Linked DNA regions of Homo sapiens: region 2 is linked to region 1. The links come from fine-mapping of genetic effects on gene expression. A gene starts in region 1. The other region holds a variant in brackets. All regions are shown on one strand. Distances are from middle to middle. Region 1 holds the start of SCNN1B (sodium channel epithelial 1 subunit beta). Region 2 has its middle 44 kb from the start of SCNN1B.

Region 1 (8,000 bases):
AAAATACAGATGAGGGGTGAAAAAGGAGTGGTGACCCCAGAGCTAAACTAAGTGCAGTTACCTGAAGTAGAATGAATGGATGTTTGGTGTCCCCAACTCTCCCACACCCCCAAAAAAGAATATTCACCTTGTCTTCTATGCAAAGTATTGTGTGAGATGGTGGTTATAAAGGGTAATATGGCTTCAACATCTAACATCTCATGGATTTCTAGGGCTAGATTGGCTGATCTCATCTCCTAGAATTGCACTAACCCAAAGAAAGCAAAAGGACTGTCTTTCCACAATACTACAAAAATATTCAATAGAACATTTTTTGGGGGGTCCCTGAGAGACCTCCCAAACCAGTCATTAACCCTTTCAGACGTGAATTCATCTGACTGTGCCATAATTTAACCCATGAATCTTCATCCATAAAAAGAGTTTTTTAAAATTTGGCCAAATTAATGCAGGGCAGGTTCTTGGCTTCATTCAGGAAGGAATTCAAGAGCCAGCTAGCTGGTGGTGGAAGAAAATGCCTTATTGAGGCAGCAGCAGTGTTAGGCTCTGTCCCTGCTCCTGCAGAGCAAGGCTACCCCATGACGGCCAGAGCAGCCTAGCAGTCATATTTATACCCACTTTTAATGACATGCTAATTAAGGGGGCAGGTTATTCAGAGATAGCTAGAAAATGGGCGGTAACTTCCCGGCGTTGCCATGACAATGGTAAACTATAATGGCACTGATGGCCTTGTTTCATGGAGAGGTGCTGTTGGTGCCTCTTCCGTGTTTGGCCAGTATTCAAACTTATCCAGAGTCAAGTTTTGCCTACTTCCTACCTCAAAACGATCCACAGTTCTAAACAGCTGGCTAAAGTCCATATGGATGCTGTCTAATGGTGTCAGACTGTAGACCCTAATAAAAAGGGGAAACAAGTTGGTTTTCTCCTCAGGAGGCCAAGTTAACTACAGAACACAACACTCTTTGTTCATAGTTGCTTAAACATTCATGCCTTAAAACTTGCCAGCCTAACATCAACCAGTCTGGAGTTCCCAGACATCCCAAAACTCCAACTCTCCAACAATGGAAATCATGACACAGAATGAAGATGTCAGTTGTATAAAGCTGGTCACAACAGCACAGTTCCACAGGGGACTCATTCTAAAACTGTCCAACAGGGCCCCAAAAGAAAACCTTCAAAAATAACGTATTGGGTTGAACCATATGAAATTGCTATGTTCTTTTTTTTGCTTTTTGCTTTTTCTTTTTCTTTTTTTTTTTTTTTTTCGAGATTGAGTCTCACTCTGTCACCCAGGCTAGAGTGCAGTGGCACAATCTTGGCTCACTGCAACCTCCGCCTCCCGGGTTCAAGTGATTCTCCCACCTCAGCCTCTTGAGAAGCTGGGATTACAGGTGCGCACCACCATGCCTGGCTAATTTTTTGTATTTTAGTAGAGATGGGGCTTCACCATGTTGCCCAGGCTGGTCTCGAACTCCTGAGCTCAGGCAATCCGCCCACCTTGGCCTCCCAAAGTGCTAGGATTACAGGCATTAGCCACCCCGCCCAGCCGAAATTGCTATTTTCATAGGTCAATAATAGTCAAATATCAACAATTTTATATGGTCACAACCAAATACACCTGGGAAGCATTGATTTTCAAAGTGAGGTCCACAGACCCCTGGGAGGTCCCAGAGATCCTTTCAGGAGAAACTGTGAGGTCAAAATCACTTTCATAAGAATCCTAAGATGTTATTTGCCTTTTTCACCTGTGGACATTTTCCCTGACAGTGCAAAAGCAATGGTAGGTCATCACTGGTCATTACAGAAATGCAAATCAAAACCACAATGAGATACCATCTCACACCAGTTAGAATGGCAATCATTAAAAAGTCAGGAAACAACAGATGCTGGAGAGGATGTGGAGAAATAGGAACGCTTTTACACTGTTGGTTGGAGTGTAAATTAGTTCAACCATTGTGGAAGACAGTATCGCGATTCCTCAAGGATCTAGAACAAGAAATACCATTTGACTCAGCAGTCCCGTTACTGGGTATATACCCAAAGGATTATAAATCATGCTGCTATAAAGACACATGCACATGTATGTTTATTGCGGCACTATTCACAATAGCAAAGACTTGGAACCAACCCAAATGCCCATCAATGATAGACTGGATAAAGAAAATGTGGCACATATACACCATGAAATACTATGCAGCCATAAAAAAGGATGAGTTCATGTCCTTTGCAGGGACATGGATGAAGCTGGAAACCATCACTCTCAGCAAACTGACACAGGAACAGAAAACCAAACACTGCATGTTCTCACTCATAAGTGGGAGTTGAACAATGAGAACACATGGACACAGGGAGGGGAGCATCACACACCAGAGCCTGTCAGGGGGTGGAGGGCTAGGGGACGGAGAGCATTAGGAGAAATACCTAATGTAGATGATGGGTTGATGGGTGCAGCAAACCACCATGGCACGTGTATACCTGTGTAACAAACCTGCACGTTCTGCACATGTATCCCAGAACTTAAAGTATAATAATAATAAATAAAAAAGACTGAAAAAAAAAGCAATGGTGGGTCAAGTTATATGAAGCTGAATTTACTTCATTTACTTCAACTAAAACAACAGATTGCAGCCGACTGAATACGAGAATCCAGCTGTCTCTTATTAAGCCAAGCATTAAAGAGATTTGCAAAAATGCTAAACAGTGCCCTTCCCACTGATTTTTTTTTTTTGAAAAATATTTTTCAGCCAGGCATGATGGCTCACACCTGTTATCTCAGCTCTTTGGGAGGCTGAAGTGGGAAGATTGCTTGAGGCCAGGTATTTGAGACCAGCTTGGGTAACACAGCAAGACTTTGTCTCCAGAAAAATAAACTTTTTTTAATTAGCCGGAAGCAGTGGCACACACACCTTGTAGTCCCAGCTAAGGCAGGAAGATGGCTTGAGCCCAAGAGTTTGAGGCTGCAGGGGTCACACCACTGCGCTCTAGCCTGGGCAACAAATTGAGACCCTGTCTCTCTTTACCAAAAAAAGAAAAAAATTGTAAAAAAGCCTTTTATTTATGTCAACAAGTAGTGGGTTTATTATAGTGTAATGCATTAATAAATATTTTTAGGTATCAGTTTTAGTTTCTCATATGGAAAGTATCATTATATAAACAAAATAACATATATGTGTTAAAAACACGTGTGTGTGTGTGTGTGTGTGTGTGTGTATTCCACATAAACAAAAAGTCTCAGGTATTCTGTAATTTTTAAAAGTACAGAAGATTCCTGGCTGGGCATGGTGGCTCACACCTGTAATCCCAACACTTTGGGAGCCCGAGGCGGGTGGATCACTTGAGTCCAGGAGTTCCAGACCAGCCTGGCCAATATGAAGAAAACCCATCTCTACAAAAAACACAAATTAGCCGGGCATGGTGGTGCATGCCTGTAATCCCAGCTACTAGGGAGGCTGAGGCAGGAGAATTGCTTGATTCCGGGAAGTGGAGGTTACAGTGAGCTGAGATGACACCACTGCACTCCAGCCTGGGCAACAGAGTGAGACTCTGTCAAAAAAAAAAGAAAGAAAGAAAGAAGAAAGAGAGAGGTAGGGAGGGAGGGAGGTGGAGAGAGAGAGAGAGAAAGAAAGGAAAGAGAAAGAAAGAAAAGAAAAGAAAAATACAAAAGATTCCTAAGACCAAAAATTTTGAGAATGACTGCATTAAGACAATCTATGGAGAAATATACAGGAAACTAAGTGTTAAGGATATTGGCAAGAAAGTGGCTGAAATGATAGTCCTGAAACCTTGACTTGATGAGAAGAGAAAAGAAAAGGAAGGGAAGATTCGAGGAAATGCGCAAGGCCCGCCAGTGCCCTGAGGCTAGAGCACAGGTGTAGTGGGCACTCCAGAGGGGGCCAGAGTTCCCAATCTCGGGGTGGGCTGTTTGAATTTCTAATGCAAAGATAGGACCTATCGGGGATGACTGAGATCTGGGAGGTCTCCACCTTGGTGGAGGTGGAAGAGGCGGAGGGAAGAACGTTCCTGGGAAAAGTGGCTGCATATGTCCCCCTAAAGTCACCAACTTGCCCAGAGGACACTGTGTCTGCAGGGGTGTGGATGTGATGGGGGCGCGCCTGTACTGGTGAGCGCGATGCTTCGCCTAGGTGAACGGGACAGGTACACGCGTGGGGTGGGATGGAGTGTTCATATATGTGGCTTGTGATATGTACTGAGGGGACGTGGGGTACACTCGGATGAGGGGTCTGTGGACATATTCGTGGCGCATGTGGGTATCGCTGGTGTCCCGAGGTGGGGAGGGAGAATGCGGAGCGCGTGCGTGCGGGGGGCGTCCAGTGTCCCTGAACCTGGCGTGTGGGGGCTGGAGCTTATTGGGAGGCGAGGGAGGTGGCCAGGGGAGCCGGGACCGTGCGTGTGGCCAGGCCGGTAGCGCCCAGTAAGCTCCACCCGCGGGCGCTCCCCGTGCTTCCCCGCCCCTGAACCTGCTCCCTCCCAGTCGGTCTCGCCGCGCTCGCCGGGTGTCCCAGTGTCACCAACACTCGGCCGCCGCCGCCAGCTTGGCGCGCACCGCCGCCTCCGCCACCGCCGACAGCGCGCATCCTCCGTGTCCCCGCTCCGCCGCCCGAGCAGGTATGACGGCGAACCCTGGCTCGCACCCGGTCTCCCGCGCGCTGCCCGGAGTCCCTGCGCGCGCGCCTTCTCCTGCCCAACCCCGGCCCGCGAGCTCCTGTCCCGGCCTCAGTTTCCCACGGGAGGGCGCTTGGGTGCCTGTCTGAGGCGCCTGGGACCCGGCCTGGGGACTGAACGGGTTGGGGGCGGAGGGGAGAGCTGGAGGCTGGGAAAAGCCCCCAGGGTGCAGAAGGCAGACGGGGCCAGGGTCCCCGGCGTGTCTGGGACCTCAGAGACGGCGGCAAAGTCCTGGCATAGAGTGGGCGGGGCAAGAAGTTGTTCAAGAGGTGACAACAATGAAACTCGAGAGCGCTTTCTACGTGCTGGGCACAGCTCAGCAGAGCGCCTTGCTCAAACGACCTAACTTCGCTCACAGGGCATCCCTGTGGGGTGGTTCTCTTGCTGTCCCCATTTTGCAGAGGTGCAAACTGAGGGTCAGAGGGTGGGGAAGCTTCCCTACGTCCCAGGAACAAGTTGCTGAGCTCAGATTTGAACCCAGGCAGTCCGACCCTGGAGCCTACCTCGTGGGCTGTCAGTGGCGTCCGGGGAACGTGGGTTTCATTTGGGGTGATGTGGTGGAGGAGGCCAGATCCGAACGCCCTGCAGTTGTCTGCGCTGAGGATTCTCAAGTGCTAAGTTGATGTCTGGACAATGTCATATGACTTAGGTGTGCTGTGGAGGGAAAGGGTCTGGGATATAGTACAGGGACATTCTCACTCTAGCGTGGAGGGGGAAAATGAGGCACAGAGTTTAGGGAGGAAGCAGCAGAGACCTCCAGTCCACAAAAGGCACATCTTCCCACTCACCTCCACCAGGGAGTAGGGGCAGAACAACCAAGACTGGCTTTGGTCCCTGGCAGCCCAGCTCTCACAAAGCCGGGTGGATGGGTCTGAAAGCTCCCAGAGACCTGAGCACCCCTGTCTCAGATCCCAGCATCCGTGAGTGACCCAACCTGCCTACCCATTGAGCTGTGTAATTCCATGCAGAACACAGGGATCCATTCTTCTTCCTCTGTAATCTTCCACCCCTGCCCTCCCAGCTCCCCAAAGGTAAACACCTTCATAATTTGGAGTGTTTCCTTCTAGACCCTTTCCCCCACCTACACAGTCATATATACAGAGCCATAGAAAATATGTAAAATACTTAGTAATGTAGTAATGTTGTAGGTGGATATTTAATAGAAATGATGCAACCCTTGGGAGGCTGAGGAGGGCGGATCACTTGAGGTCAGGAGTTTGAGACCAGCCCAGCCTACATGGTGAAACCCCATTTCTACAAAAAAAAAAAAAAAAATTAGCCGGGCATAGTGGTATGTGCCTGTAATCCCAGCTACTCAGGAGGCTGACGCAGGTGGATCGCTTGAACCCAGGAGGTGGAGGTTGCAGTGAGCTGAGATGGCACCATTGCACTCTAGCCTGAGTGAAAGAGCAAGACTCTGTTTCAGAAAAATAGAACTAGAAGTAGAAATGGTACAACCCACCTATGTCATTCTGCAACTTGAGCCCTCTCATCACCAGTTATCCATGCTGCTGCATATAAACCCAGCTTATTTATTTAAACTGCTGCATGGATTCCCGCCGTGGATAATGCCTACCGATGGGAATTTAGGTGACAAAAATTTTCAGGTTGGTTTTTATTTCAGCATCTTCTATAAATTGTTATCTCTGGGTTAAGTTCAATTTATTTTTCTTTATCCTAAACTAACTTCACAGGATCTGAATTTAGGGGATGAGGTCCTCTCTTTTCCACTGCTCACATACGGACCCATGAATGCATGCACACACACACATGCACACATGTGTGTACATATGCATGTTCACACACAAGCACACACGGGCACACATACATGAGACATACACACAAGCAAGTGTACATGCATGCATACACACACACAGGTGTGTGCACACACCTCTATTCTGTCTATGACCAAGGACAAACACCACACTTTCTCTAGCTGCAGTCTCTGCAGGTCCCTAAGGCTGAGACTCAGCCAGGCCACTAGTTCTGCCTGGCCATGCCCCAATGGGCAGAGGTTCCATCGGGGCCACCTCCAGGGGTTCTCTCTAGATGCCCTCCAAAGCCAAACTCAGCCTCCAATAGCAGACAGAAGGAGCTGAGAACCACGAACCACGGACTGGCAGATTGGACTGTCCAGGGTCCTGTTTGTGTACCACAAACTGTAGGTCCAGGCTGTGGCCTAAAGAGAGTGTGTTTGCTATAGACTGACAGGACCCTTAAAAGTTTGGTGGAACCCATGATCTGGGTTGATGAAAAGCTAGAATCAGAGACACTACATTATAATCCCAGCTTCACCCCTTCCTAGTTCAGGCAATTCCCTTCCCCTCCCTGAGCCGTAGTTTTCACATCTGTAAAATGGGCATGATAATAATGGCACCCTCCCCAAACTGTTAGGTGGATTAGTGGGGTGATGTAAATAAAATGCTTAGGGACTCATCAGCATCAGTAAGCAGGAAGTCTTTTCCTGAACAGGGGAGACCTGGAGATGGCCCTTGGGTGGTGGGGGGACGCAGGGGTGATGCCTAGAGCCACTGTTTGTGACTTCATCCACACCCCAAGTACAGACCAGAGGGTCCTTTGCACTGAGCCCTGAGCCAAAGAAGAGATTTCCGCTTGTTGAGAGCCAAGCCCAGCTTACTGTGGAGTCCAGAAGTGTCATGTTACTTACAAAAGGCCTAAGGTGTGCCTGGTCCTGGGTTAAGACACAGAAATGAAGTGAGCTGAGGTGCTCCCCTTTGGAATACAAGAGATAGCAAAAGTCACAAAGAAGGCCTGTGGACTTTTAAATTTTTAGATTATTCCCAAGATTTTAAAAATCAGTTCATATAAGACTCCATATTTCTGGATCCTCTTGAGATATCAGTAAAGCTGGCAATGGCCAGGCATGGTGGTTCACACCTGTAATCCCAGCACTTTGGGAGACCAAGGAGGGTGGGTTGTTTGAGCTTAGGAGATCGAGACCAGCGAGTTGCTTGAGCTTAGGAGATCAATATCAGTCTGAGCAACATGGCAAAAACCCATCTCTACCAAATATATATATTATATATATATATATATATATATATATATATATATATATATATTATATATATATATATATATATAACCTGGGTGTGGTGGCATGTACCTACAGTCCCAGCTACAGGGGAAGCTGAGGTGAGAGGCTCCCCTGAGCCCAGGAGGTTGAGACTACAGTGAGCTGTGATCACACAGTTGTACTCCAGCTTGGGCAACAGAGTGAGACCCTGCCTCAAAAAAGGAAAAGAAAGAAAGAAAAGAAAAGCTGGCAACTCTGGGCCAGACACTCAGCTGCCCCCTTA
Region 2 (13,423 bases), 43 kb before region 1:
TATTTATTTATTTATTTATTTTTGAGATGGAGTCTCACTTTGTTGCCCAGGCTGGAGTGCAGTGACACAGTCTCCGCTCACTGCAACCTCCACCTCCCAGGTTCGAGCGATCCTCCCAGCTCAGCCTCCCAAGTAGCTGGGATTATAGGCACCACCACGCCTGGCTACTTTTTGTGTTTTCAGTAGAGACAGGGTTTCACCATGTTAGCCAGGCTGGTCTCGAGCTCCTGACCTCAAGTGATCCACCCATTTCAGCATCCCAATGTGTTGGGATTACAGGTGTGAGCCACCACGCCTGGCCATATCTTCCATTCATTTCTGATTCACACAGTTCACTCCCTCTATTCCTCATTCCCCCACTGTTACATCCATCCGGAATGTAAGAGCAATATCAATAGATTGCTGAATTATATGCACAGTTAGAATATTGCTCATGTGTAAAGAGAACTGAAAAACATTCTCAAATGTGGAATAACTCAAGTATCAGAACACTATCACTCATCTGGAAAAATCTACTTGAAGACGTAATGCAGCCAGTTGGAAAATGAACCAAAATGAAGATCGAATGCATAGAATATCTAATGTGACAGGACTGGCAGTGAGCGCTCTGCCCCAGTAAGCCCAGAACTAGGTCTAAAGAGAATGAAGGTAAGGATTTAAAACTACAGCTAAAAAAATAAGATGCAGTAAATGTTATAAAAACTGAAAGAAACAGTCTCATGATCATTAATTATATTCCACCGGGAATACCACCTGCAGGATATGTCAAGCAAAATAGATGATATTGTTTATATATCAAGAGCTCTTACAAGTCAATGAGAAAAGTACAAACAAATGGGGACCAAAACTGTCAAGGTCATGACCAGTCAACTCCAGAAGAAATAAAAATGACTAAAAAATATACTAAAAGGCTGGGCGTGGTGGCTCATACCTGTAATCTTAGCACTTTGGGAGGCTGAGGTGGGAGGATCGCTTCAGCCCAGGAGTTCGAGATCAGCCTGGGCAACATAGTGAGAAACTGTCTTTACGAAAACAAACAAACAAACAGAAACAAAATTAGCTGGGCATGGTTCCTAACATCTGTAGTCCTAGCTACTCAGGAGTTTGAGGCGAGAGGATCTCTTGAACCCAGGAGTTTGAGGCTGCAGTGAGCTATAATTGTGCCACTGCCCTCCAGCCTGGCCAACATGTGAGACCCCCATCTCCAAAATATATATAATATATATATAATACGTATATATATAATATGTACATGCATTATATATAATATATGTAATATTATCTACTATATATGTGATATTATATATAATGAATGTACTACATATTATATATAGTATATATGTACTACATATTATATGTAGTATATGTGTAATACATATTATATATAATATATGTAATACATTATTATATACTATACTATATATTAATTAATTATCATATTACTATGATAATATATTAATTATACTATTATATTAATAATATATTAATTATACTATTATATTGATATTATATTAATTATACTATTATATTAATAATATATTAATTATATTATTATATTGATATTATATTAATTATACCATGTTAATAATATATTAATTATACTATTATATTAATATTATATTAATTATATTATTTTAATATTATATTAATATATTATTTTAATATTATATTAATTATATTATTTTAATATTATATTAATATATTATTTTAATATTATATTAATTATATTATTATTTTAATATTATATTAATTATATTATTGTATTATTATATTAATTATATTGTTACATTAATATTATCTTAATTATATTGTTACATTAATATATTAATTATATTGTTACATTAATATTATATTAATTATAATGTTACATTAATATATTAATTATATTGTTACATTAATATTAATTATATTGTTACATTAATATATTAATTATATTGTTACATTAATATTATATTAATTATATTGTTACATTAATATTATATTAATTATATTGTTATATTAATATTAATTATATTGTTACATTAATATATTAATTATATTGTTACATTAATATTATATTAATTATATTGTTACATTAATATTATATTAATTATATTGTTATATTAATATTATATTAATTATATTGTTACATTAATATTATATTAATTATATTGTTATATTAATATTACAATATATGATTATATATTATATACTAGGAACAATAGGAAAGGAATGATAAACACTGGGGACTATATTATAATGATGGCTCACACCTGTAATACCAGCCCTTTGGGAAGCTGAGGCAGGCAGATCACTTGAGTCCAGGAGTTTGAGACCAACCTGGGCAACATGGTGGAACCCCATCTCTACAAAAAAATACAAAAATTGGCTGGGTGTTGTGGCTCACACCTGTAGTCCCAGCTACTCGGAAGCCTGGGGTGGGAGGACAGTGGGAGGCAGATCTTGCAGAGCCAAGATCATATATTAATTACAATATATTAATGCGTTATTATACGCTATATATGTAATACATATATAATATATAATATATAATACATATTATATAATATATATGGGATGCTCAAACCTTATATATAAGAGATGCTCAAACTTAACTAATGATTAAATATATGCCAGTCATATATTTCGTTAAATTTCACCTATTGGATTGGCAAATAATAAAATTTGGTAATGCCCAGTATTTGAGAGGATAAAGAGAAACAGGCTCTCTGGTTAGCTGTTGGTGTTTCTATAAATGGATAAAACCTTTGTGGAGGGCTCCTCACATTCTCTATGAAAATATATAATAGATGAGATGAGGGGCTTTCCAGACATCACCAGACCATGTCTACCAAATAAAGCTGCATTTTTTTCAAATGTTCAAGCTGTACTGACTACAATCCCCAGCTTTCCCAGAGAGTAGAAAGTGCGGTCTGCTGTGTGACCTATGTGACTCTCCAAGGAATGCTTAGACGTTCCATTCTTATGTCACTTGCCAGTGCCCCCAGCCTTGCTCTGAACTGTGGCTGCTCAGGACTTTGCGGTTCACCTTGAGTCATCGGCTCTGTGGTCCCCACACCATTCCAATTACAGACACAGGCTTAAACTTCACTTAACCCCCTTTGGAAGCATAATGAAGGTATTGAGCCAGATTTAACTGAAGGCTTGGGGAAAAACAGAAATGCAGGGTAGACGTTGGCTGACACAGTTCCTGCAGGTAATTATTCCTGGGGGCCACAAGCCCGAAACCAACCCCAGAGATTTTCTACTTCCCAACAGATTTCCACAGGGTAAGGGAGAGCCCAGCTGCATTCAAGAAAAGTTCCATGTGTACCAATGTTTAGCTCCCACTTACAAGTGAGAACGTGTGGTATTTGGTTTTCTGTTTCTGCATTAATTAATTCCCTTAAGACAATGGCCTCTAGATGCATTCCTGTTACTGCAAAGGACATGATTTCATTCTTTTTTATGGCTGTGCCTGTGTTGTATTCCATGGTGAGTATGTACCACATTTTCTTTATCTAACCCACTGTTGATAGGAACAATAGACACTGGAGACTCTAAGAGTGGGAAGGGAGGGAGTGGGGCAAGGGGTTGAAAAACTACCTATTGGGTACTATGCTCACTACGTGGGCAATGGGTTCAGTCATACCCAAAACTCAGCATCAAGCCACATACCCATGTAACAAACTTGCACGTGTATCCCCTAAATCTAAAATAAACGTTTTTTGTGTTTTTTTTGAGACTGAATCTCACTCTGTCCCCCAGGCTGGAGTGCAGTGGCGCAACTGCAACCTCCACCTCCCTAGTTCAAGCAATTCTCCTGCCTCAGCCTCCTGAGTAACTGGGATTACAGGCGCATGCCACCACACCTGGCTAATTTTTGTGTTTTTGTTTTTAGTAGAGACTGGGTTTCACCATGTTGGCCAGGCTGGTCTTGAGCTTTTGACCTCAAGTGATCCACCTGCCTCAGCTTCCCAAAGTGCTGGGATTACAAGCGTGAGCCACCATGCCTGGCCAAATTAAAAAAAAAAAAAAAGAATAAAACAAAAACATATAACAATTACTTTTAAAATACTATATAAGGCCGGGTGTGGTGGTTCATACCTGTAATCCCAGCACTTTGGGATGCCAAGGTGGGCGGATCACCTGAGGTCAGGGGTTCAAGACTAGCCTGGCCAACATGGTGAAACCCCATCTCTAGTAAAAATACAAAAATTAGTTGGGCATGGTGGTGCGTGCCTATAATCCCAGCTATTCGGGAGGCTGAGGCAGGAGAACTGCTTGAACCCAGGAGGCGAAGGTTGCAGTGAGCCAAGATCGTACCACTGCACTCCAGCCTAGGCAACAGAGTGAGACTCCCTCTCAAAGTAATAATAATAATAAAGAAATAAATAAAAATACTATATAAGCCTGGCAAGGCATGATGGCTCACACCTGTAATCCCAGCACTTTGGGAAGCTGAGCCCAGGAGTTCGAGACCAACCTGGGCAACATGGTGAAACCCCATCTCTAAAAAAAATACAAAAATTGGCTGGGTGTTGTGGCTCACGCCTGTAGTCGCAGCTACTTGGAAGGCTGAGGTGGGAGGATAGTGGGAGGCATGATCTTGCAGAGCCAAGATCATGCCACTGCACTCCAGTCTGGGTGACAGAATCAGACCCTGTCTTAAAAATATATAATAAAAATAAAATTAAATATTATATTATATTATATAAGCATGGAATCAAATTATACTATCAAGTAAGGTTCTATTTGAGAAAATAAAAGTTATTTGAAACACAGGAAAAAGATTTCTAGTCCTCTCTCTGGATAGAAGACGTTCCTTTTCCATGGTGCAGAGCTCTCCAAATATTTGAATTTTTGTAGTGATAATGATGATCTTTCCCCTATAATCAGAAGATTAGATATACAACTGATAAAACTGCGTGTGTAAGAAAAAAAATCTCTCCAGAAATTATAGGTGGATCCTACAAACAAATACAGTCAAGATTCTTGTGGCCAGAACAGGCAGTTCACTTAAGGAACACCCTTCTAAGAGTACACCTTGTTCCTGTCTGGGTGTGCCGCAAGTTATAGACTCTCAATAAATGTTTGTTGAGTGAAGAAATAAATGTTGACCACCTTCCACCATCACCTTATGAGATAAAGTCCAGACTTATTTGAATGGATTCCAAGTCTGCATTACCCGGCCTTAAACTCTCATCATTTTACTCTGGTCCCACCACTGTATTCACTGGGTCTTTGCCTGCTCCATCTCATCCTCCCTTCAAACCCCAAATCAAGTCCCACTTCCACCTCTGAAGTCTCATTAGTCTCTGACATCCCCATGTTCACATTCAGTCCCCTCTTCTCAAGTCATGTCCCTGCGTCCTCTTCACATTTCATTTCATGTACTAAATATATATTTATAGACTAGTTCATTTTCTAAATGTGCAAATCTTGTCTCTTTAAGAAGATAAATCCTGGCAAAGAACCTCCTCCTGCTCCTGTTTCTTCCAATGCAGTTGGTGATCAATAAATATTTATTGGTTTCTGGATTCATTATTATTTTCTCTCCTTTCTTTCTTTCTTTTCTTTTTCTTTCTTTTTTTTTTTTTTTTAAGATAGGGTCTTGTTCTGTCAACCAGGTTGGAGTGCAGTGGCACAATCACAGCTCACTGCAGCCTCCAACTCCTGGGCTCAAGCCATCCTCCTGCCTCAGCCTCCCAAAGTGCTGAGATTACAGATGTGAGCTGCCGCACTCAGCTATTATTCTTTTCTTTCTGTTCATTGAATCATTAACTCTGTTTTAGATTTGTTTCCCCAAAAGCAGATCTGGGGATCTGAGACAGAGAATTTATATGAAAGTGATTTTGTTGTTGTTGTTGTTGTTTGGTTTTTGGTTTTGTGGTTTTTTTTTTTTTTTTTCAGAGATGGGGTCTTGCTATGTTGTCCATGCTGGCCTCAAACTCCTGGGCTCAAGAGATCTTCCCACTTCAGCCTGAGTAGCTCGGGCAGCAGGTGGACACCACAAAGCCAGGCTGTGTGAAAGTGATTCATAAGTGTTCCCAGAGAAAATTGGTAGAGAAGTGGAGAAGGGGAATGGGGCGAGAAAGAAGGTTAGACAAAGGTGTGTTATCAAGTAAAGTCACACAGAGGGTAATTGAGGCTTGACCCTCCAGGGGAGCTTTGGGACACTGTGGGTCATTAGGGCAAAGGAACTGGAGGATTTCTATCCCCACACTGTCAGTCATGAGTTAAGGGCTGTCCCCGGGGCATGAAAACTTTCAGGTATTTCTGGTTTTCTTGAACATGCAGGAAAAGCAGGTCCTAGCAGCCTATGTGCAGCCCTCCAGTGAAGGCCAAAGGTACTGGCCATTGGGAGGAAAAGTACACAGAAACCTACAGTGCACAAAAATGGTAAAATAATACAGAGTACAGGAGAGCTGAGAGCATC[T/C]GCACATTCTTTCAACAGACTTTTACTGAATATCTATTACATTATAGATGCTGCATGGAAATTGTCCAGGCACAGTCTTTGCCTTCAGCGATCCAGTCCTGATGTCTTTTTTTTTTTTTTTTTTTTTCCCCCACAGCCGGGATCTCACTCTGTCGCCCAGGCTGGAGTGCAGTGGTGTGATCACAGCTCACTTCAGCCTTGAACTCCTGGGCTCAAGCAATCCTCCTGCCTTGGCCTCCCAAAGTGTTGGGATCACAGGCAAGAGCCACCACGCCTGGCCCGGTCCTGATGTCTTGAAGGGGAGACAATTGCACATGAGTTAGTCTTGTTCAGGACGCAAGGTGCAATAGCAGCAGCAGGTAGGAACTCAGAGAGGAAGTGCCCCAACTGTGCCCAAGTGATTCTCGGGCGTGACTTAGGATCTTAAAGGATGACTAAGGGGGAAAAAGGTATTCCTAGCCAAAGGAACAGCATGTACGAAGGCAGAGAAAGAAAGTACACATTTGTTTGGAAATAAGGAGTAGTTTGCTGTAGCTAGAACACAGGGTGTGGGAGAAAGGAAGACAACGGGAAGCCAAGGCTGTAAAGAGAGGCTGGGAAGAAGTGACGAAACATTTTATACCCCGTTAAGGAGACAGTAAAATTTTGAGATGGGCCTACCTGGCCATGATTATAGAGGTATTTAGGAAGAGAGGGTGGCCACATAAACCAGGTACTGGACACCAGGTGTTCTGTCAGCCCAGCATCCACAACCCTAACCAGATCATCCTGTTTCTCTCTCTCTCTCTCTCTCTCTCTCTCTCTCTCATTATAGAGATGGGGTCTCACTATGTTGCCCAGGCTGGTCTCAAACTCCTGGCCTCAAGCCATCCCCCCACCTCAGCTTCCCAAAGTGCTGGGATTACATGGGTGAGCCACTATACCCAGCCCTGTTTCTCTAGGCCTGATGATTGCCAGACAAAGGAGAGTCAGGGCTGGGGCTTTCCTTGGAGAGGTTGGGAAAGAGGTTTGCAGAACTGCACACTGGCTGGAGGGAAGGGCAGCTCAGAGAACAGAGCCAGCAGGTGGAGACATGAGGAACAGCTTCTGTGGACGTCAGCATAGTGCCGGATCCAGTGGACACAGGGATACCAATATTCCCTATGATGATAAATATCAATTAATTCCAATAAGTTTCCTTTTTCTGGCTTAAGCTGGATTGAGTCAGGTTTTTGTCACATTAAATGAATGAGTCCCCATTCATACAGAATATATGGGGATTTTTGTTCTGTGTTGTTTGAGACGGAGTCTTGTTCTGTCGCCCATGCTGTAGTTCAGTGGCGGGATCTCAATTCATTGCAACCTCTGCCTCCTGGGCTCAAGCAATTCTCCTGCCTCAGCCTCCAGAGTATCTAGGATTACAGGCGCCCACTTTTTTGTATGTTTTTGGTAGAGACAGGGCTTCATAATGTTGGCCAGGCTGTTCTCGAACTCCTGACCTCAAGTAATGCCATTCAAGTGCACATCAACTGTTTTGGAGAATGCTGCCAAGGTGGTATTCAGAGGAAAATGCCTAGCCTTAAATACTTTTGTTAATAAAAAAAAAATTCTAAAGTAAGTGGACTATGCATTCAACTCAAGAAATTAGGAAAAGTAAAACAAAAGAAATCAAAAGAAAGTAGAAGGGGAAAATATGTAAAATTAGAAACAGAAGTTGGAGAAGGGAAAGAGGGAAAAGGGCAGACTTGATAGAGGAAAGACCTGCCAGGCGCAGTGACTTATGCCTGTAATCCCAGCACTTTGAGAGGCTGAAGTGGGAGAATTGCTTGAGCCCAGGAGTTCGAGACCAGCCTGGGCAACATGGTGAAACTCCATATCTACAAAAAATACAAAAAGTAGCTGGGTGTGGTGGCTTGCACCTGTGGTCCCAGCTTCTCGAAAGGCTGAGGCTGGAGGATTGCTTGAGCCCAGGAGGTGGAGGCTGCAGTGAGCCGTGATAGCACCACTGCACTCCACCCTGGGTGACAGAGCAAGACTCTGTCAAGAAAGAAAGAGAAAGAAAGAAAGAGAGACAGACAGAGAGAGAGAGAGGGAGGGAGGGAGGGAGGGAGGGAGGGAAGGAAGGAAGGAAGGAAGGAAGGAAGGAAGGAAGGAAGGAAGGAAGGAAGGAAGGAAGGAAGGAAGGAAAAGAAAGAAAGGAAATGAAAGAGAGAGAGAGAGGGAGGCAGCAAGGGAGGGAGGGAGAGAACGAAGGAAGGAAGGAAGGAAGGGAGGAAGGAATGGAGAGAAGGAAGGGGAAAGAGAGAGATTAAAATCAATCAAACTTACAAAGCATCTCAATTAATTTGGAGAGAATAAACATCTTTCCAATACTGAATTGCCACATTCAGGAACATGTCCTAAGCATTGAAGTCTTTATTCAGGCCTTTCTGTATAGGTTTATAGTTTTCTTCAGAAGGGTCTTGCACAGTTTTTTGTTACTATTGTTCCTGAGATATCTTTGAGTTTTCTAGCTTGGAAAACTGGGTGGATAAAGGAATCACTCACAATAGCAACCAAGTCCACAAAATACCCAGGAATCAGTACACTGGGGTGGCCAAGACACTTTTGGGAAACTAACAGGAGCAATGTTGGTGGGCAGGAAACTTACCATACCCAATAGAGAAATCCACTATAAAGTCACAGTCGCTAAAACAGTGTCATATAGCAGCTGTATGTGGTACAGTTATTCAGTGAGATGCCACTTAGCAATAAAAGGAAGCAAACTATTTTTTTTTGAGACAGGGTCTCACTCTGTTGCCCAGGCTGGAGTATAGCAGCATGATCACGGCTCACTGCAGCCTCGACTTACCAGGCTCAAGTGATCCTCCCATCTCAGCCTCATGAGTAGCTGAGGCTACAGATGCACCCCACCATGCCCAACTAATTTTGTATTTTTTGTAGAGACAGGGTCTGACTATGCTGCCCAGGCTGGTTTCAAACTCCTGGGCTCAAGCGATCCTCCTGCCTCAGCCTCCCAAAGTGCTGGAATTACAGCTTTGAGCCACCACGCCCTGGCAAGGTAGCAAATTATTGATACACCCAACAACTTAGAGGAATCTCAAAGACATTACACTGAGTAATTGAAGCCAATCTGGAAAGGTTACCAATTATATTATTCCATTTATGTGACATTCTGGAAAAAAACTATATTAATAGACAACAGATTAGTTACCAGGGTTACAGAGGGAGGATGTGGCTATGTAGGGGTGGCCTGAGGGAGATTTCTGGGGTGATAGTTGTGGTGGTAGTTACACAAATACATACATGTGTTAAAATTCATGAAACTGTACGCAGTTAATTTTATTACATGATAATCTTAAAAATAAAATACACAAAGCAGTTTAGTGGTAATATAATAGTAAACAAATAGAATCTTTGAAATCAGAGCTAGTCTATATGCATAAGGCTATTAGGAAGTAAATATGAGGCCAGGAGTGGTGGCTCATGCCTGTAATCCTAGCACTTTAGAAGGCCAAGGTGGGCAGATCACTTGAGGTCAGGAGTTCAAGACCAGCCTGGCCAACATGGTGAAAATCCATCTCTACTAAAAATACAAAAATTGGCTGGAAATTGCTTGAACTCTGGAAGCAGAGGTTGCAATGAGCCCAGATCATGCCACTGCACTCCAACCTGGGCAACAGAGCGACACTCCATCTCAAAAAACAAAGGAAATAAAAATGGTTTTTCTGGAGATTGGTTGTATGATAATATGCATGTGTTTAACACTACTGAATTGTATACCTGAATAGTTAAGATGACAAATTTTATATGTTTCATTTTCCCACAATTTAAATAAAAAGATTGGTCCTACACTGGTAAGTGTTGAAGTCAGAAGATCATTATACCATTATGCTACTTTTGTATAATTTGACATTTCTCGTAATTAAAAAGCTTTCTTTATTATAAACAGTGATTTTTCACATCAGTGGTAAAATGCTATATAAAAGTATAGAGATATTTGACTTTTTGTTTAGAAAGAAAAAAATCCCACCCTCAAATATTTTAAAAGACCAGTCAGATTTAAATTTTTACGTTAAAAAAAAATCTATAAAAACACGAAAGAGCTAGAGGAAAGTAGAGGAAGGTAATCTTATAACCCAGGGGAAAGGAAGGCTTTTGCAAAGCTTTCCAGGAAGTTCCAAAGCCATAAAGGACAAAGAGCCTAGATTTGATGACATGAAAACTCCAACTTACACCTGATAAAAGATATCATAAACAAAGTGATTAAAAGCTAAGCTATAAACTGGGGGAAAGCATATTTATCAGAGCCTCCCTGGCCCCTTTGCCCATTAAGGAACCCACCTGTCCCCTGGAGGCCTCTAGGTTTGCATCCTATAATACAAATCATCCTTTCAAGTCCAGTTCATGATCATCAGAAATTGAAAACAAAAACAGACAAAAAAAAACCAAACAAACAGATGTAGCATACAGATAAGTCCTGCTGCCTGTTAATGACATCAGGCTTGGACCCAGAAGGACACAAGTATATAAACTGTGGCTCTCTCGCCTAACCCTGCAAAGCCTCAATTTCTCCATCTGTATGTGGGGTTAATGATGGAGAAATGTTACCTATCCATTATGATAGGAGATAGGTTGATGGATTGTGGTGGTGGTGTGGGTAGGAGTTTATTTTTTTCTGCATAGATTTCTACATTTCCCAAATACTGGACAAGAATGAGCTATTACTATTATAACCAAGAAAAGGTGATTTACATTTTGTCTTTTTTTTTTTTTAAAGAGGTGACTCAGAGGTTTAACTTAATATCTGGGGCCAGATGCAGTGGCTCATGCCTGTAATCCCAGCACTTTGGGCGACTGAGGCGGGTAGATCACCTGAGGTCAGGAGATCAAGACCAGTCTGGCCAATATGGCGAAACCTCATCTCTACCAAAAATACGAAAATTAGCTGGGCGTGGTGGTGCACGCCTGTAATCCCAGCTACTTGGGAGGCTGAGGCATGAGAACCCAGGAGGTGGAGGTTGCAGTGAGCCAAGATCATGCCACTGCACTCCAGTCTGGGCAACAGAGCGAGACTTTGTCTCAAAAAAAAAAAAAAAAATCTCTGGAGGACAGATCAAATGAGTATAAAACTAGGATGTCTGGGCTAGTCCTTAATCTTTGGAAATGATGATGTTTCCTCCCCAAGGTCCTTACCCTAAGTGCATGTAAGGACAACTAAGACACCAGCCCTACTTGAGAGTGGCTCGCCGTCTATTCCAATGGTATTGGAGGCAGACAGGCAGGAGGCTTAGTACAGTGCAGGCTGATCAATTCAGGGCATAGGTGAGTGCTGAAAATTACTGTGGTTATTGATCTGGGATATGGGCAGTGGGGTAAAGGGGAAGGTTTATGATACAACCTAGATCACCAGGATATAGATACATAGGTGATAGATAGATTATATATAGTTGACCCTTAAACAACATGGGTTTGAACTGTGTGGGTCCACTTACATACAAATTTTTTTTCAATAAAAGTTACATGGAGTGTGCGTGCCTCTCCTGCCTCCACTTCCACCTCCTCCACCTCTTTCACCTCTGCCACCTGTGAGACAGCAAAACCAACCCCTCCTCTTCCTCTTCAGCCTTCTCAATGTGAAGATGACAAAGATGAAGACCTTTGTGATGATCCACTTCCACTTAATGAATAATAAACAGATTTTCTCTTCCTTATGATTTTCTTTTCTTTTTTTTTTTTTTTCCTTGAGACGGAGTCTCACTCTGTCACTCAGGCTGGAGTGCAGTGGTGTGATCTCAGCTCACTGCAACCTCCACCTCCCAGATTTAAGCCATTCTCCTGCCTCAGCCTCCCGAGTAGCTGGGACTACTGGTACCCGCCACCACCCCCAGCTAATTTTTGTATTTTTAGTAGAGACTGGGTTTCACCATGTTGGCCAGGCTGGTCTCGAACTCCTGACTTCAGGTGATCCGCCCCCCTCGGCCTCCCAAAGTGCTGAGATTACAGGAGTGAGCCACCACGCCCACACCTTCTTGATTTTCTTAATAACATTTTCTTTTCTCATTCTCACCTGAGTCGCTAGAGAAAGTCTTCCAGAAGTCACATTTGAGCTGAATCTTGAAGGATGATGAGACTTTCATCAGGTGTGGGGCATGAGAGCCCAGGAAGAGGGGAGGGCATATGAAAATGCACACAGGAGCCAAGCACAGTGGGTACGCCTGTAATTCCAGCACTTTGGGAGGCCGAAGTGGGAGAATTTCTTGAGCCCAGGAGTTCAAGACCAGCCTGGGCAACGTAGCAAGACTCCATCTCTACAAAAAAAATTATTTCAAATAAAATAAAATGCACGTAGGCACAGAAGAACATGGCCAACTTGTGGTGAAGCAAAATGTCCAAATGGACTCTCATAAATAGGGAAGCAGATGAGGCTGGAATGATGGACTGAGGGTTGAGAGGGTCTTGAAGGGGCTTTGACTCATCTCTTCGGTTAAAGGGAGACAGTTAAAGTCACATGAGCTGGGAGATGAGGAGATTCGATCCTCATTTTAGAAAGATATCACTGTAACAAGACAGGGATGGATTGGAGCAGGAGAGACCTTTTACTCGATCAATGCCACAAATATTCATGGAGTGGCCCCTGCTGAATTAGTTTCCTATTGCTGCTGTAATAAGCTACCACAGACTTAGTGACTTAAAATAACACAGCTTTATTTATTTATTTTTTAAGTTCTGGAGGTTAGAAGTCTGAAATGGGTCACACTGGGTTAAAACAAAGGTGTCAACCAGGCTGCATCTCTTCTGGAGGCTTTAGGGGAGAATTCATTTTCTTGCCTTTCCCAGTTCTAGAGGCTGCCTATGTTCTTTGGCTCCCTCCATCTTCAAAGCCAGAAATTCTCCCATTGAGTCTTTCTAATGATGCCATTTCTCTGGCGATAACCCTTTCACCTCCCTTGTTCCCATTTAAGGACTCTTGTGATCATATGGGGCTCACCCAGATAATCCAGAAAAATCTTTCATCTCCAGATC

Evidence for each region.
Region 2: its variant is fine-mapped to the expression of SCNN1B in unexposed skin (GTEx, PIP above 0.99).

Annotation. Positions count from the first base shown.
Region 1 is chr16:23,297,815-23,305,814 of GRCh38, forward strand. SCNN1B (sodium channel epithelial 1 subunit beta) reads left to right here and starts at 4,488. Exons shown (of 13, transcript NM_000336.3): 1 at 4,488-4,623. RefSeq lists enhancers at 3,686-4,203, 4,204-4,720.
Region 2 is chr16:23,251,610-23,265,032 of GRCh38, forward strand. No RefSeq gene overlaps it. Among named protein-coding and RNA genes, the nearest start is that of SCNN1B, 44 kb to the right of the region's middle. The variant T/C (reference allele first, on the strand shown) is at 6,419.